Regions from separate parts of the Homo sapiens genome. Here region 2 is linked to region 1. A link means that fine-mapping ties the variant in region 1 to the expression of a gene that starts in the linked region. Tissue or cell type: liver. Region 1 holds a variant in brackets; the other region holds the start of a gene. All regions are shown on one strand. Distances are between the middles of the regions.

Region 1 (8,105 bases):
ACAAGGTTTTACAAGCTCAACAATAAGGACCCTGAGTTTACAAAAAAATAGGCCTCTTTCTGAATATTCAGTAGTAGAGAATTAGGACCTCAGTGTGGAAGACAGGAACCAGTTGGAAAATCAGGCTGTGTTTCCGGCTTGTTGGCAAAAAGTAACTACCTCAAGAAGGGGTATGTTTGAAGTTGATCTCTATGTGTTTGTATGTAAAGAACAACAACAACCACAAAATAGGAATTTTCCCACGACACATAAAAATAAAAGAGGAGAAGGAAACTCTCCCGCCACACAGTTACGTATTAACCGGCGGGTTTCCTTGCGTCCCAGGTAACACCCATACCTGGATCTGCTGGACCATGTTGCGCAGCTGTACCAGAAACTCCTTGGCTTCTTTGGCCCTGTCTGACAGTCCGTTCAGCGCCTGGGAGAGCTGGCTCTGCAAAGACAAAGAAGGAAGCCATGGAGCTGTAATCACAGGATACACCAACAAGGCCAGCGAGACTCAAAACTGAAGAGTCATCAACCTCCTCAGATTCCTCTTGTCTGAGGTTGGACCTTTTTGCTGGCATTTGTACAGGTAGATTCTGGTGTCGAAACTCCCTGTGCTCCTGAGTAGTTTCTCCTTGGAAGCAGTGAACACTTCTGGCCACAGCAGTCAAAGGCCCTCACCAGCTGATATCAACCTAGAATTTCTTCATCTCCTCCTTCATTGATTAATTAAACAATCATTTATTGAATACATATTTGCTAAGGACTAAAAAAGCAAAACAAAATAGTGAGTCAGATGATCTAATTCTTATCAACGTTACTTAGCACAAAGGGCTATTGGTCTGGGTAGGGCAGAAAGAATAGAGTAAAGAACAGGATGAAGGAAGGGGTAGGTACTGGTGTGATCCTCTGGGGCCACTTAAATATAATCACAAATTCAATGGGCAGGATGACATTCCACTCCTGCCTCATCCGTGTCCTCTTCCTTCTCCCAAGTACAGCCCTGCTGCCCTAGCACATTTGTGTCCTCTCCTCACTAGCCTCCGACACCAAGGCTTACTCTCTTTCTTTCTTCCCACACCACCCCATCCATACGAGGAGGCAGTTCTGCTGGGTTGGCAAGGTGTCCAGGTAGGTACTTGCTCTTCCAGCCTCCTCGTCCGCTGGGGAGGCCGTGGTACACAATCCTGACGGACGACACCTAAGTGGAAGTCTGCTGGGGACTGGAGGGGTCTGAGAAAGCTTTTGCTTTTCTGCTGATACGGAACCACTGTGATTGATGCAGCCTCTCCACTGTGGTTCCTGACTTTAGGATGGATGTGATGTCTTCCGGCTCACATGAGGAGAAGGCCAATAGGGTATGGGTGGAGGGATGGGAGGGGAAGGAGCTCGGTTCTGATGGCATCTTTGAGCAGCTGAGTCAACACCTGAAACCTTCACCACTAGCTTTCTTGTTATGTGATAAAAATTAACTCCTATTCAAGTCACTGTTCTGGAGTTTTCTATTGCTAGCAGGAATTTATATCAAGTATCACTGTACTTGATACAAATTCCTTCCCCTCCTAGCAGTCTGGGTATACCCTTCCGTACCTCAGGTACAGAGACAGACTCCCTTTCCTGCACTGTCTTCTTTTCAAATTAAAGCCTATTCTCCTTGCCAACACAATGATTCATCTACCCTTTCCTTTCTGTAAAAGGGCAGAACCTTAAAATTATATCTCTTGGTGCTGTGAATGCTTTTCTCTTATATTTGTCTTTTAAATACAAAGTTGGGCACTGACTCTCTAAAAATATGCACACCAAATGCTTGGTTGAGGCAATGTGGGATGGTAGAAAGAATATAGGTTTGAAAGGGTGCAGATTCTCGCTCTATCCCCTATAAGTGTGACCTTGAGAAAGTTACCTTTGTCTGAATTACTCCAATGGAAAAGGTGGGAAGAACAGTAATACTTTGTAGTTGGGTTATTGTGAGGGTTGAATGCATTAATCAATGTGAAAGCTTCTGCTAGTTAAGGGAACAATTCTGAATTCTGAAATGCTGCCAGTTACTGGCTGTTCAACCCTTTATACATTGTTTTACCTCATCCATAAAATCAGAGGAAGAATACTATTCTTGGGTTTTGTGGGCATTGCATAAGATACTATATCTAAAGCCCAGAACCCTATTACCCTACTGGTGCACAGTGCATGATGCGTGCTTAATAAATGCTGGCTGTTAACTTTTTTTTTTTTTTTTTTTTTTTTTTTTTGAGACAGAGTCTCACTCTCTCACCCAGGCTGAAGTGCAATGGTGTGATCTTGGCTCACTGCAATCTCTGCCTCCCAGGTTCAAGCGATTCTCCTGCCTCAGCCTCCCGAATAGCTGGGATTACAGCCGTGCACCACCACACCGAGTGAACTTTTGTATTTTTAGTAGAGATGGGGTTTCTCCATGTTGGCCAGGCTGGTCTCAAACTCCTGACCTCAGGTGATCCACCCACCTCGACCTCCCAAAGTGCTGGGATTACAGGTGTGAGCCACCGTGCCCAACCAGCTGTTAACTCTTATTTGTTTTCTTCATTCTTGCTCACACAAACACCTGCTGACTGGAGGGATTCGCAGGACAGATTCCTGGAACAGGGTCTGTTGGAGAACATTTTCGATCACCTGTACTTTGCTCTATGTATTTAGGCTCCAAGAGGCAAGACCAACACAACTGAGTAAGATAAAGCTCAAAGTGAGCCTACAGTTGCAAAATTCTTTATGATTGGGTCTCAGCTACAATATTATTTGGAGTAAAAGTTTCTCCTCAATAACTATTAATATTTCCAGGAGCCCAAGGGATAAAGGAGGGAAAAACGGTCTCATTTGGAAGAGCAGGCAATAATATGAGAGGCATATTTTAAAGAAGAAATTTTTTTTCATTGTTACTTTAGAACTCATATCTTTTTTTTTTCCTGAATGAGTAAAAGTTTGCTGGACTACCATAGTTTTCTTCCTCTTTTTATTATAACCTATGTTTAGTAACCACACTTAGATGTTTCAGTACAGAAGTAAAATTGATTTGGTTACACAGAAGTGAAGCTGCCTGGTGTCTTGTATTCCAACCTTGCAATTAATTGTGTCTGTATAAGACAGACTTGATACCCATAGATTTTTTGACCAGTTGCTGCTGTATACTTAGAAATACAATCATTCCTAGTAGTAGACAAAGAGTTTTGGCCCCATCTAGTCCCAGGATTTTATATGACAAAGCAGTAAGTGAACTGCAAAAATCAATTTATTTCCAATTTCCTCTTTGTGTTTATGGTCCGTCCCAAGAATGCCTTCTACCTGGCTGATGATTGTTCTGGTATTTGATAAAAAATTGCATTATAAGATAAAGATCTAGAAATCATTCTCTTAAGCTTTGTCCACTTGTAGAAATTGAGGAGACAATGAAAAATCCTGGAAAACTATCACTAGAAAGTGCTCTTATTGTAAGGATTTATATGCACATTGTTTTTATAGGTTGGTATTTTAATCACATTTATAAGCTCCATCTGATGTAGAAGAACATTGTTATTGACTGATTTTGTTTCCCAGATGCATTTAAATTCCTACTCTGTGCTAACAAAGATGTTCTGCATTCAGGACCACAGAGCAGTGCTGGAAATTTATGACCAGAACAATGAAGATGCAAATATGTAGTATGTGTTTTCATCACGGCATCTTTGGTGGTACAAGCAGTCATTTAAGGGAGAAAGGTACGTTCTAAAGCTGTTTATAATGCCTAAGCAGTGACATTCGGATTTCTTGGATATTTGTTTTCTAGGTTACTGAAAAGGTGTCACGATCTGAAGGTGAATGAGAGGAGAAAAATGATGCAGCTGAAGCCCTGATCTCCAGTCAAGTTGTTCTTGGCTGGGAGCATGCTGAGAATCACCGAGGTCTCCCAGAAAGATGACAAGTTGTTCAAGCCTGAAGGAGAGAAACAAAGAACTCTGCCTCCTCCTTCCCTCCTTGCGTGGCTTTCGTCCTCAGCTTCCACCCTGACCCTGGCTCCCCTTGCCTCCCCAGGAGGGAGAGATCAGGCACTTACCCTGGGACTGACTGTGGAGGACGTTTCAGGACCTACTTCTCACGCTCAGCAAATGGGTAATGCAATTCAATCCATCCCGCCCAATGCCTGACTTGCCCAAGCTGCTGAGTGTGCCCAGGCAGAAGACAGTATCTTCTTTCCATTTCCCACTGTAAACATTCTTCACGTGGCCTTTTCCCCTCAATTCACCACAAATATTGGATAGCGATAAACTGGGACAAATGAAAAGAAGCTTTCTGGCTGTCTCGGATCTGAAGTTACAGGCACAGGATGGGTCAAAAGGGTCACTCGAAGAGTTGGTACAAAACAGAGGAGGCGGCAAACAAGCACTGGCAGCTTGATGGCTCAGAAAATGACCCAGCTGCCTCCCCGGGCGTGGGGCACCTTCTGGTGCTGTATCACAGTGCATGCCATTCAGGCACCGCAACACCACTGGGCCCAGGAGCCAAAGCCCACTCCCGCTCCTTCCCAGGTACAAAGATAAACACAACACTCAGGAAAAAAGTGATCA[T/C]TGATGCAATGGGACTTTGAGGGAAGGCCGCCAAGGAGAATAACAGTTTTTCTGATGAAATATTGATCTCTGGGTCACATTGCTCAGCAATTACCCATTGCCGGTTACTCAGTACATTGCTGACATAGTACAATCAAAAAGTGTAAGCAAGAAATTCTAATAATTGTAAGCAAGAAATTCTAATAATTGTAATACATTGGTCATTTCTTATGAGCCAGGAACTCTGATGGGTGCTTTCAATGCAATCCCAATCACCTCCCTGCCATTTTGCAGAGGTGCCGAGAGGATACCCCTGAGTGAAGGTTTCACCACTCACATACGGAACAGCTGGAACACAAACCCTCATCTGATGGCAAACTCATGCTCTTTGCTCCAGCCTCCCAAAAAAAGAGAATTCTCTCACCCTCACAGGCCAAAACAATTGTTTAATTGTTTAATCCACGGTGAGAGCATGTACAACCAGAGAAGGTGAGAGGATGACTATGATTGATTATGAGGTGGTCTGATTATGCTTAGCAGCCAGATAGTATGTAAATTACAGCATGACTAGTTAACCTATGAAACATTCAACTTTTTTCCTGCATGAAGTTTTCTGGTGAATTTGAAAAAGTCCCCTAAGAGAGGAGTCTCATGGAGGAGGGAAGAAGCTTTGGATTCAGGTCCACTGACAACTTTGTCAACTACTGGCCTAAGATCTTGGGCAGAGATTGGGTGAAGTGGGAATTAAGTAAAGGAAGGAGACCTCACAGAGTGACTGGTACTTGGGGAACCATCAAGCTGAGCTGTCCAAGGGTCCTGATTCCCCCTCTAGGAAACATTTCTATTCCTCCTGCTTGCACCTTTAGTGCCTGCAAGAATGGATCCCTTCTCCGGTTTCTCTGGTGCTGGAAGATCCTGGATATACCCCAACCCCAGTTCACTATAGTCAGATGGACAGGAATCCTCCAAGACCAGCTGGTCTGCAGATGCCAATTTATCTCTAAGCCCAGCAAAGGGCTGGCGCAGTGAACAGGCTATGATTTGCAAAAGAGTAGCTGGGCCTGGGAATGGAAGCACACAGTATAGGGACAAAGGATGTGTGTGTGTGTATGAGTGTGCATATGGTGTGTGTGTGTATGAGTGTGCATATGCCTGTGAGTGTGTGAAAGTCTATGTGTATGTGGGTAAGAATGTGAGTTTAAGAGTGTGTAAGTATGTAAGAATGTGTATGTGTATGTATGTGATTGTATGTGAGATATGTCATCAGTGGAGTATGGGGAGGCTCTTGGCTTTGGGGGAGGCTCTTGGCTTTGAGCAAGGCTGGTATCAGAGGAATCTTATGGGTAGGGATTTGCTCCATTAAACTGCTGCTTATTGTTAATTGGTTATAAGAAAGATTCGAGGCCGGGCGTGGTGGCTCATGCTTGTAATCCCAGCACTTCGGGAGGCCAAGGCGGGCGGATCACTTGAGGCCAGGAGTTCAAGATCAGCTTGGCCAACATGGTGAAACCTTGTCTCTACTGAAAATACAAAAAGTTAGCCAGGCATGGTGGCGGGCGCCTGTAACTCCAGCTATTCAGTAGGCTTAGGCAGGAAAATCGCTTGAACCTGAGAGGCGGAGGTTGCAGTGAGCTGTGATTGCGCCATTGCACTCCAGCCTGGGCAACAAGAATGAAACTCTTTCCAAAAAAAAAAAAAAAAAAGAAAGAAAAGAAAAGAAAGAAAGAAAGAATGATTCTATCCTTGACCAAGTTATAGCCAGGGTCCTCTGAGCCCTCTTCTTACCTAGGCCTCAACCTTGACCTATAAAGACTTGAAGAAACACACAGTTTCTAACAGCTCAAGGCTGAATTCCTAAGATGACCCCAGCCTCCCTTAAGGTACCTGTCTGAGAAAATTCAAGGCTGCCAAAAGAATTCGATGTTGTTCCATTGAATACCTGAAGAAAGGGACTCTATCTGCCAGTCTCTGTGAGAGGGTAGGGGTCTAACTTCAATAAGCACAAGTTAGCACACCCAGATGGATTTCATACAGACTGATTTTCCCCTTCCTGATTTTTGGAATTTTTTCACTTCTGTAACTCTGAGCCCCTGCTCAACCCCTTTCCTATTCCCTCATTCCCCTTGTAAAGTGCCCAGTCACCTCTGTACAAATCGAAGTTGAGTTCAGTTCATGATGTACTCTTTTCCCTGTTGCAATTGTATACTGATTAAAATCTGTCCTTTTTACACATTAAAATCTTTCCTTACCACTTTAATTAGTGTCCAGCTAGTTAGTGACAGTTGCTAGCCCTGCCACTGACCCAGGGAGAGCAGGGCAATCTCTGGGCAATGAGCTGACCCTTCAGCAGGCCAAGGTTACCTTGAAGGATAAGTGAGGGAGCACATCACCAAGGATACAAATTCCTCCACCTAAGCCAGCACATCTCTCATATACTAAACAAATCTCACCATTTGTATTGTGAACCTGACTCTATGAGCTGTGTGGAGGGCAGAAAGGAGGAGGGCTCTGTGCTTTTATTCCAACACACTGTTACATAGAATCCCCTTTCCCATTCTTTGTTGTTAGACTTGCATGCCCAACCACACAAATATTCACACCAAAAGCTAATGCATAGTGACATTTACCTCTTTTTAAATAATAATTTAAGTCTAAACATGCTGTTTCATTCTTTGAACCACAAAAAAATGTATCAGACATGCCATTATTCCATCAGATAGTAGGAATTGGGCCAGACAGAGCAATGGGGACCAACATGGCATTGGAGTTAACAGGATAGACTTCAAAGTCAGATGAACTTGAGTTTCAGTGGTGGCATTTCACTAGTTGTGTGATCATGGACCTATTACCTAACTGTAGTGAATACTGTGGTGCTCTACCCAGAATATTCTCTCAAAGACTATGCATCCTTCTCCCAGCTGCAGGGAATATCAGCTGTTGATAGATTACCCTAGGAATTGCTCTTGGCCACAGGGAACTAACTGCCTTACTGAAAGCTATGTCCCCTTCTGGGGATGTCCCATGGCAAGTGAATGGCTGGGGCCCCCTTGCTTCAATTTTGGACAACCCTGAAGAACCATCCCAGATCTAGAACTTGTAGTAGGATTGGTTGAGGCCATTGCAGGTTAGCTTCAGCCTCAGTTCAATCCTGGCTTCCTCACTTCCAGGTGGATCTACCAAGAGCACACAACAACTAACTATCTCTCAGAGTCTGTGTCCAGGGAACCCAGTCTAAAATACTAAGCTTCAGTTTCCTCATCTGCAACATGGGGATAATAAGAACCTACATCCTAGGACTACCATGAGGATTACATGAAATCATGTATATAAAGTTATATGCAATGCCTAGCATATTGTTAAAATTCAATAAGTAGTACAGGTTGAATATCCCTGTTCTGAAAATCCAAAATCTGAAACATTTCAATGAACCTTTCCTTTGAGCGTCTTGTCAGCACTCAGAAAGTTTTGAATTTTGGAGCACTTCAGATTTCAGATTTTTGGATTAGTGATCCTCCACTGGTAAGTATAAGGTAAATATACCAGAATCTGCAACACTCAAAATCTGAAACA
Region 2 (8,105 bases), 66 kb after region 1:
GAATGACAACTTTTCAGGTCTAGTAATAACCTGTGTTGATAACTAACTGCCCAATTTTGGAAACCTAGTTAGTATAGTTCTTTGCTGTCCTATTTTTGCAGGGCATAGAAATTCTGGCCCATGGGCTTTTGTGGAGATAGAAGTACCATTAACTAAAACATAAACTATATGAGAAAACTGGCTGCTAACACATTAACTTCCTTATTAAGTAAATAAGGTGGGGGAGTAATGTTTGTTGTTCATCTAACAGATGACAAGTGAATGTTAAAATCTGTCATCCTTCTGTCTTATTTTTTTTCTTGGCAGTTTAGTAATCCTCATATTGACTGAACAAAAATTATGTGTCCTTACTGTTTTGGAAAAAATGTGCAAAAGATCAGAGAATAAATGGTCTTCTAGCCTACTTATGTCATGTTTCAAGGGTTTTAACATTCTTTTGTGGCAGGTAGATATCTAAATCTCAACCCAGGCAGCACCAGTGTCTGTCTACTCATAATTTCTATTGCCAATAAAACAAATGATTTAACATTTCAAATTGACATGGGGCTTGACAGAGATTTAAAGGTTTCTTTTGGTCTTAATAGATCAAGGATAGGCTTGTCATAAAAAAAATAATAATGTTGTGGTTTACCCATCCTAATTACCTTGTGGCTCTAAATTCTTTTTCCTGACAGAGTGATTAATTTTTTAGTTCCAAGGATACTTTGTAGGGCAATTCAACATGGACTATAATTAGCAGTTTAAAAGTGAAATCAAAATATGAATAAAAAACTAGCTGTGAACTCAAGTTTTGAAAACTTTCAAAATTAAATGTCATTTTCAAAAATTTAAATTCGACTGTTCTGAAAACAGTGGTGTGTGCCCAGTTAGGCTTCAATTTGTGCTAAATGAAATCCCCATCAGTACTAATATGATTTAATAGGTTATATGTGAGAATAGAATGACTGTAAACATGGATCACATTCAACCGGGTTAAGGAGTTGAGAAAACTTTCACTGATTGCTGAAAATTAATGACATTTTTTTCTTGCTGTAAACAAAATATCAATGTTCCAGCCTTAACTCCACAGTTGGCCACTTGCAAAAGCTACCCTTTCTAGTCTCCAAGGAATTCTGGGAGACTCTGAGCAAGGCCACAGCTGAGGCCTGGACACTATCTTCACTGCTCCATCTCATCCTTGGGTATGCAACTCAGTGATGTAAAGAAAAGCTCCTTCCAACCATCCTGAATCCCTGCCCTGCACTCCACAGCCCCAACTAAATGGATCATTTAAAAAATGAAAAGCAAATTCATGCACATCTCCTCAAGAGTTGCTCCCTTCCTTCTAAGCAGTGTGGGCATATTATAAGGATCTTCTTCCTCATGAGGCTTATTTCGTTTATGTCTGTGTGTGTACAGGGAGCAATAGATAAATACAAAAAATAACATAATTAAAATATATAGCATGCCACACAGGGATAAATACTACTGAGGAAAATAAAGCTGAGAGGGAACTAGCGGGTGTCTGGGTGGGTGGCGCTGCAAAGATGATACCTGAGCAAAGAGCTGAAGGATGCAGGTAAGTGACCCATTCGGATCTCAGGTAACTGGGGAAGAGAGCTTCAGGCTGAATGAACACCAAATGCAAAGGCCCTGGAGTAGGGAGGTGCCTGGCGTCGTTTGAGGAACAGTAAGAAGCAGTGTGGCTGGAGCAGAGGGAGTAAGTGGGAGGCAATGAGGTCGAAGGGGCCAAAATGGAAGAGGTCATGTAGGACAGGCTGAGAAGCGTGGGAAAAATTGGAGGGTTTTGAGCAGAGGAGTGGCACGACAGAATATGTTGCTAAAGCCTCTTCGTGTCTAGCCATGGTGGAAATATCATCAAAAGAGACTGGAAAGATAAATCTGGTAACAGGTGTCCCAAAGTTTGCACATATAACTACTGAAAGAGGAAAGGGCTTGAATTCCGGAGAAGTGGGTGTGTGTATAGTTGGGAGGAGAAGGTTTCCCTAGGAGATGCACCTGTCTGGCTTCCAGGCCGCGACTGCGCAAACTCCGGTCCTGACACTCTAGTCTCAGGTCCCAACTCCGGAAGGGTTCAGGCCCAAGCCTGCACGTCGCGTTGCCATGGCGACCGCTGGCTGCCCTCTCCGCTCTGTCTTTTGAGCACGTGGCACCAGGACCCCGCGTTCTCTCCAGCTCGAGAGCCAGGTCTGGCCCAGAGCCGGGCTCATCAGTATTCCGCCTGCGGCGTCTCCCCGACCCTCCGCCGTGCCTCACCAGGTCCGCCTATCCAGCAGCGACAGACTCCCGCCGTCCGCGCGACCCCACCGCCCCCATCCCAGTCCCTCCCCGAGGGTTCGCAGCCCGCCCTGCCCTCGAGCGTGCCTAGCGGCCCTGGGCACTGGCGCGGCTCTACCCAGCTATGCAGTGCTTTCCCACACACTGGCCGCGGCCACTGGCTGCAGACCCGCCGCGGAAAGGGGGCGCCCTGAGTCCCGCTCGCAGGCAGCGCGCCCCGAGAGACCCGCTCTAAGGCATCCCCGCAACAACTCTGTGGGGGCATTCAACTCCCCCGTGCGCCGGTTAAGATTCCCCCATGCCTCCTGCAATGCACCAGACCAGGGAGGTAAACATCGAAGGCACCTGCATTGCGCCCCCACTGGGATGCGCTGTGCGCAAGAGACGGGGACCGTCTGCTGCAAAACCGGATGATCGGAGACGCAGGGAGTTAGGAGTGGGTTTTCTTAGGACTCACCTTATGTAGTTTCCACATGGCCCCCAGAGCCTTGACTTCGTGGCTGGAGTGTTTGCCCTCCTCCAAGCACTGGTAGCACACGGGCATCTTGCATTGCACGCAGTACATGCTGTGGTTCTCCAGCTCGTGGTCTGTGCAGGTGGAGACCTTGCGTGGGCTCAGCCTCCGGCTCACACGACCCTGGGCCGGGGGCACCAGGCGGTGCTTGGCTAGGGGCCCCCGGGGCGGGTGGCAGCGCAGGCGGCACGGATCGCAGTAGAAGACATCGCACTGTTCGCACATGACGGTGGCTTCCTTGGGCGCCTTCTCGCAGAGCTGGCACTTGAGGGCCGCGGCTTTGCTCTGCTGGTAGCGGTCAATTACCCCTTCCAGTACGCGATTCTTGGGGAAGCCGCGGAGCCCCCGGTCATCCAGGATGAGGCTGCGGTGACACTGGGGGCAGGTGATACAGGAGTTGCGGGGCACCGGGGCCAGGGCCGGTGACAAGTGGGTGGCCGGTGGCGGCATAGCCGGGGGAAACACGCGGACGCCGTTGGGGGACTTCTGGCACGGGGTAGTGGGGGCGCTGGCGAACCCCCCGTAGGAGCCATAGCCGCTGTCCGCCTCGCTGTATAGGCTCATCTTGTCCAGGTCCAGATAGTCATAGTCGGAGACCCCGGAGCCCGCGGCCCGATGGCTCTGGGGGGATTCAGACTCTGGGGTCTGCACCAGGATGTTGCGGGCGCACGCCTGACACAAATTGTGAGAGCAGGGCAGGATGATGGGCTCCCGATAGAAGGAGCCGCACACGGGGCATTTCAACTCCTCTTCCATCTCCTCCATGGGGACCGGTCTGGGAGGAGACAGCGACGGCTGCAGCGGGTGCCTGAGCTGGCGAGGTGGCCGACGGGCCCGTCTTGTCCAGCACCCTGGCCAGCGGCGGCGGCTGTGGTGGTGGTGCCTTCCCGCGCAGCACTGGCACGGACACCCAGAGAGGCGCTAGCTCTGTGAGCCGCAGCCGCGTAGCCGCCGCGCCGCGCGCCAGCCCGGACCGCCCCTACCTGCCCTCCTAGTCCCGCCCCGGCCCATGAGCAGCGGCCCATTGGGCGGGGGGCAAGAGATCGAAGCTCTCATTGGCCACCAGACCCGTCCGTCTCCTCGTCTCCGCAGGCCACAGGGGGTTCGGTAGAGTCTGAGGATAGGGCAGTCTTCGCTCGCGGCTGCAAGATCTCTGAAGGGGGCCGGCGTGCGGAGGCTAGGGGACCGGGAAGGAGGAGTTAGGCGGGATGATTCATCCTCGCCCGGCTTACTTCCGACCTCCGGTGCAGTCTCCCAGGAGCTGGGGGCGTGAGAAACCCCTCCCCGCAGCGAGTGGGCTGCCGGAGGGGGCTGGGGCTTCTCGCCAGCGTTTGCGTTTGGCTCCCAGCTCTGAGCTCCGCGCCCACCTACCGCGGGCGAGTGCTGCGCAGCACGGAGGACGCCCCTTCTCTTCCGCTGCTGGCAGCCTTCGCAGGCGTCTCACCCGGGCCTAGGCTTCTGCACGGCAGTGGGGCTTTTCTCCTTCTCCGTGAATCCGCTGACGCCGTGCCCTGGAGCTCCCCCATCCCGGGAGTCTGACGGCGCTGGCGCAAGCCCTGGCGACACTCTTGGCTTCTTTCATCCTGCGTCCCTCGTTTCCTAAAGAGCATGTATAAAGTCGATTTCCTAGTGTCGACATGAGATTCAACTGGGTAACCGATGGAAATGGTCAGCATTAGTCAGAATCTATGACCCCTTCGTTTCATGCTTTAAATTATAGCTCGGCCCAGAGGCCTCAGTGCCGTGGTGTGAACGTGCTTCCTTCCACGGATCCTTCTTCCTCCTCGCGGCCTCCCAAAGCACCTGGCTGAGCTTTTTCGAGGCCCGCTGGGCCTTTGGTTCGGTTGAGGCAAGAACAGTTTGTCTATTTCTGAGTGCCCGTAGTTTAGTAAAGCTCTGTAAATGAATCACTGTGTGACTGCGGAGTCTCAGTGTTTCACTCCAAACAGCATTATTCAACCCCACGTGCCCTGGGCATCTGCCATAGCTTACAGCATCGTGTGCCTTTCTGTTTCTTCCAACGAGGGGCATGGTGAGGCGGTGATTCTAGTGTTAGTCCCTGTACAAGGAGGGAGGGAGGGAGGGAAGAAGGGAAAGAGGGAGAGAGGGAGGAAGGAAGGGGGGGGGAAAGGAAAGGCGGAAGGAAGGGAAGAAAGGGAGGGAGGAAGAAGAAAAGGAAAGGAAAATCTTTGAGTCAAGTGACATTCTGAGGTAGTAACATTTGAAATAGTACATAGCCGGCTTTTGCTGAATGATTCATGAAGTAAAGGACAAAAACTCTTTGCAAGTTCTAGAAATATTCCAATTTTCCACCTTCCAGACAGGAGATAACTTGATTATATGCAGCTATGTTGATAATTTAAAAGTACTTTATTGTCCAGAAAAAAAATGGACATTTTATTACACTGCCCTTGTAGAAATTGTCCAATAAACTAGGTTATCTTTTCAACATCTTTAGTTGCAGTGAGAACAGTAGTTGATCATTGTGTGGGGGAATAAAGTCCCCATTGTTATTTAAAGCCATGTTAATCATAAATGTGACGTGATTTATTTTTAAGCTGGCTTTCAACTAGTTGAGACCAGAGCATCCAAAGGTATATGCACTCTGTTTACAGACATAGATAAAATTTCTTCAGGTATGGTTGGGACATTAGCTGCACTTGCAGGATACACTTAATTTATAGGTCCCAAGAGAAATTACTAATAATTATATTCAATATAGTATTAATTGAATTGTAATGAAAGTTAATTATTGAGAAAATATTAGAAAGGAGTGTCCTTTTATGGCTTTTGTATGCATTTGACCACAAGTCACAATATCTTGGACCAGCAAGGTGAGCAGCTGTTACACTTTGTATGAGTTTGAACTCTGCTTATAATAGTATATCATCTAAGAGATCTTATTAGCAGAAAGTTTATGCTTAGTTCAAAGTAAAGAAGAATTTTAGAGGATGTCTCATGGTGTAATGCAGTGTTGGGTTCGCAAAAAGAACAACACAGGTTTATAATATAGTCAATATAGAAAGATTTGGTCTATTATGAAGTCGCTTGAGATGATTTCATTGTTAGATCTGTTTGTTTAGGAATTAGCTAAATCAGTCAATCCTAGGAGAGCTCTTAAAATGACTCATTTGTTGAGAGTTCACCCTGTTCCAAACAGGGGATTTATTTATTTGTATACATTACTTGGTTAAATCCCTGTAATTACAAGAAGAGGTAGGCACAATTATTCCCATTTTACAGATAAATAAACTGAAGATAAGCAAAGACACTTAAGTACTCAAGGTCAAATATGGTGAGGCTGGGATTGGAACCCGGACACATATAAGTTTGTTCCTTTGTTCATTCATTCATTCATTCATTCATTCAACAAGTGCTGAGTTCTACTCTCTTCAAGCTCTGAATGTGATAAGTACCCAAAATGTTCTTTGTTAACTTCTATGATATTCTGCTCACCTTCTCTGAAAGTTTACTTTTTTTTTCCTTTTTTTTTTTTGAGACTGGAGTCTTGCTGTGTTCCCCAGGCTGGAGTGCAGTGGCACAATCTTGGCCCACTGCAACCTCCACCTCCCAGGTTTAAGTGTTTCTCGTGCCTCAGCCTCCTGAGTAGTTGGGACTACAGGTGTGCACCACCATGCCTGGCTAATTTTTACATTTTTTTTTTTTAGTAGAGACAGGGTTTCACTATGTTGGCCAGACTGGTCTCAAACTCCTGACCTCAAGTGATCCACCTGCCTCAGCCTCCCGAAGTGCTGGGATTACACGCATGAGCCAGCGCTCCCAGCCAAAAGTTTACTATTTTTCTTTGAATCCATTTCTTTAAAATATTCTTGAAGGCCTTTGAAGATTTTCCCCTCATGTTGCACTGTTTGGCCATAATGTGCTTTATAGCCCCCCAATGACTTATGTTTAAAAGGGAATAAAAATTGAAATGTAATTGGTAATATTATAGAAATATTATACTATTGAGGGGATATCTTCTGTCTTCCAGCTGGTGATCAGTCCATGCCCTGAAGCACAAGGATTGATAGCCCTGTAATTTCATCATTCCTGGGATGATTGCAGATGTTCTCTTTTGTGTAAAGTGCCTAATTATCCTTTGAAACTTACTATTCACCCAAATTATGTTCTTTAGCAATGAGAGCAATTACATTTAAAGTGCAACAACAGCTTTTGCATTTTTAAAAAAAGATAAATGTTTTTCTTTTTTTGATAAATGTTTTTCAATGAAAAATTGAGTTGCTTTCCTATTTGCTTTTGACTACAATGCTTGATTATTAACAAAACAGTCTCTGTGAGTCTAAAGAATGAACACAGAGAAGAAAGGTTTTTCTTTCCACATTCTCTCCTAGAGTAGTCTATCCTTAGTTGTGGGAGGGGGGTGGAAATCAGTGAAAGGAGCTGATCTTAGGCTCTAACATTTTAAGATTATCTGACATGTATATAAAAATATTTTATTAAGGTATTTGAATAAGGGTCTTGCTGCATGTGGTTTGTAAAAGTACATCACTTGAAAAGTGATAAATGTGATGTTTCTATTCTCAATAGAAATTCTGAAGAAACTTCTTTTATGGAATAATTTACCCCATTTAGTCTACTAATATTCAATTTTATACTTATAATTTTGTACTATTCTTTAATAACATTTATTGTTGATATCCTTTGGTAATTTAAATTATTTGATTATTATAGTGAATTATGAGCTTTTTCCCATTTAGTACTACTGGAAGATGGCCATATTCAAATTCTGTAGTATTTCTTATTGTAAGTAATATATTACTGATGCTTTGGGAAGGGTAGACTGGAGAATCGGAGAAAATGAAGATTTAATGAATCCTATATGGAGGTAAGAGAGCTAGAGGATAAATCCAGAAGACCTAACTTGTGAATAATAGGAATCTCAGAATGAGGAAATAACACAGGTGGAGGGAAAACCATAGTTGGAAAACATTTCTCTGAACCAAAAAAATATATAAAATTACAGATTGAAAGGATTTTAGAATTATAGATGACATTAATGAAAAAAGACCCAGTTATATACAGACACAATTCTTAACTCAGAAGAAAAAAAAAAGATCATTTTACAAGCTCCCAGAAAGAAAGAACAACTTAATTGTAAAGAAAAAAGAATCAGATTGGCATTGGACTGCTTTCTACAACCTTGCAGGTGAAAATAATGTGAAACAAATTCTACAGCCTACTAAAACTGAAAGAAGTCACCCTGTCATAGTCCGTTTTTGCTGCTATAACAGAATACCACAGACTGGATAATTTATAAGAAACAGAAATATATTGGCTCATGGTTCTGGAGGCT

Alleles and levels. Alleles are on the strand shown, and positions count from the first base shown. SD is a standard deviation of normalised expression in the study named.
For the expression in liver of the gene that starts at base 3,722 in region 2, allele C in region 1 goes with a higher level than allele T (large effect, 1.1 SD a copy in GTEx).

What was found. PIP is the estimated chance that this variant, and not a neighbour inherited with it, causes the effect.
Region 2: TRIM9 starts here. The variant in region 1 is fine-mapped to the expression of TRIM9 in liver (GTEx, PIP 0.92).

What each region holds. Positions count from the first base shown.
Region 1 is chr14:51,024,928-51,033,032 of GRCh38, forward strand. It overlaps TRIM9 (tripartite motif containing 9), which reads right to left. Exons shown (of 13, transcript NM_001387360.1): 2 at 338-433. Among named protein-coding and RNA genes, the nearest start is that of TRIM9, 66 kb to the right of the region's middle. RefSeq lists an enhancer at 3,464-4,663. The variant T/C (reference allele first, on the strand shown) is at 4,557.
Region 2 is chr14:51,091,384-51,099,488 of GRCh38, forward strand. It overlaps TRIM9 (tripartite motif containing 9), which reads right to left and starts at 3,722. Exons shown (of 13, transcript NM_001387360.1): 1 at 2,735-3,722. The coding sequence starts at 3,556. RefSeq lists a silencer at 3,714-3,783.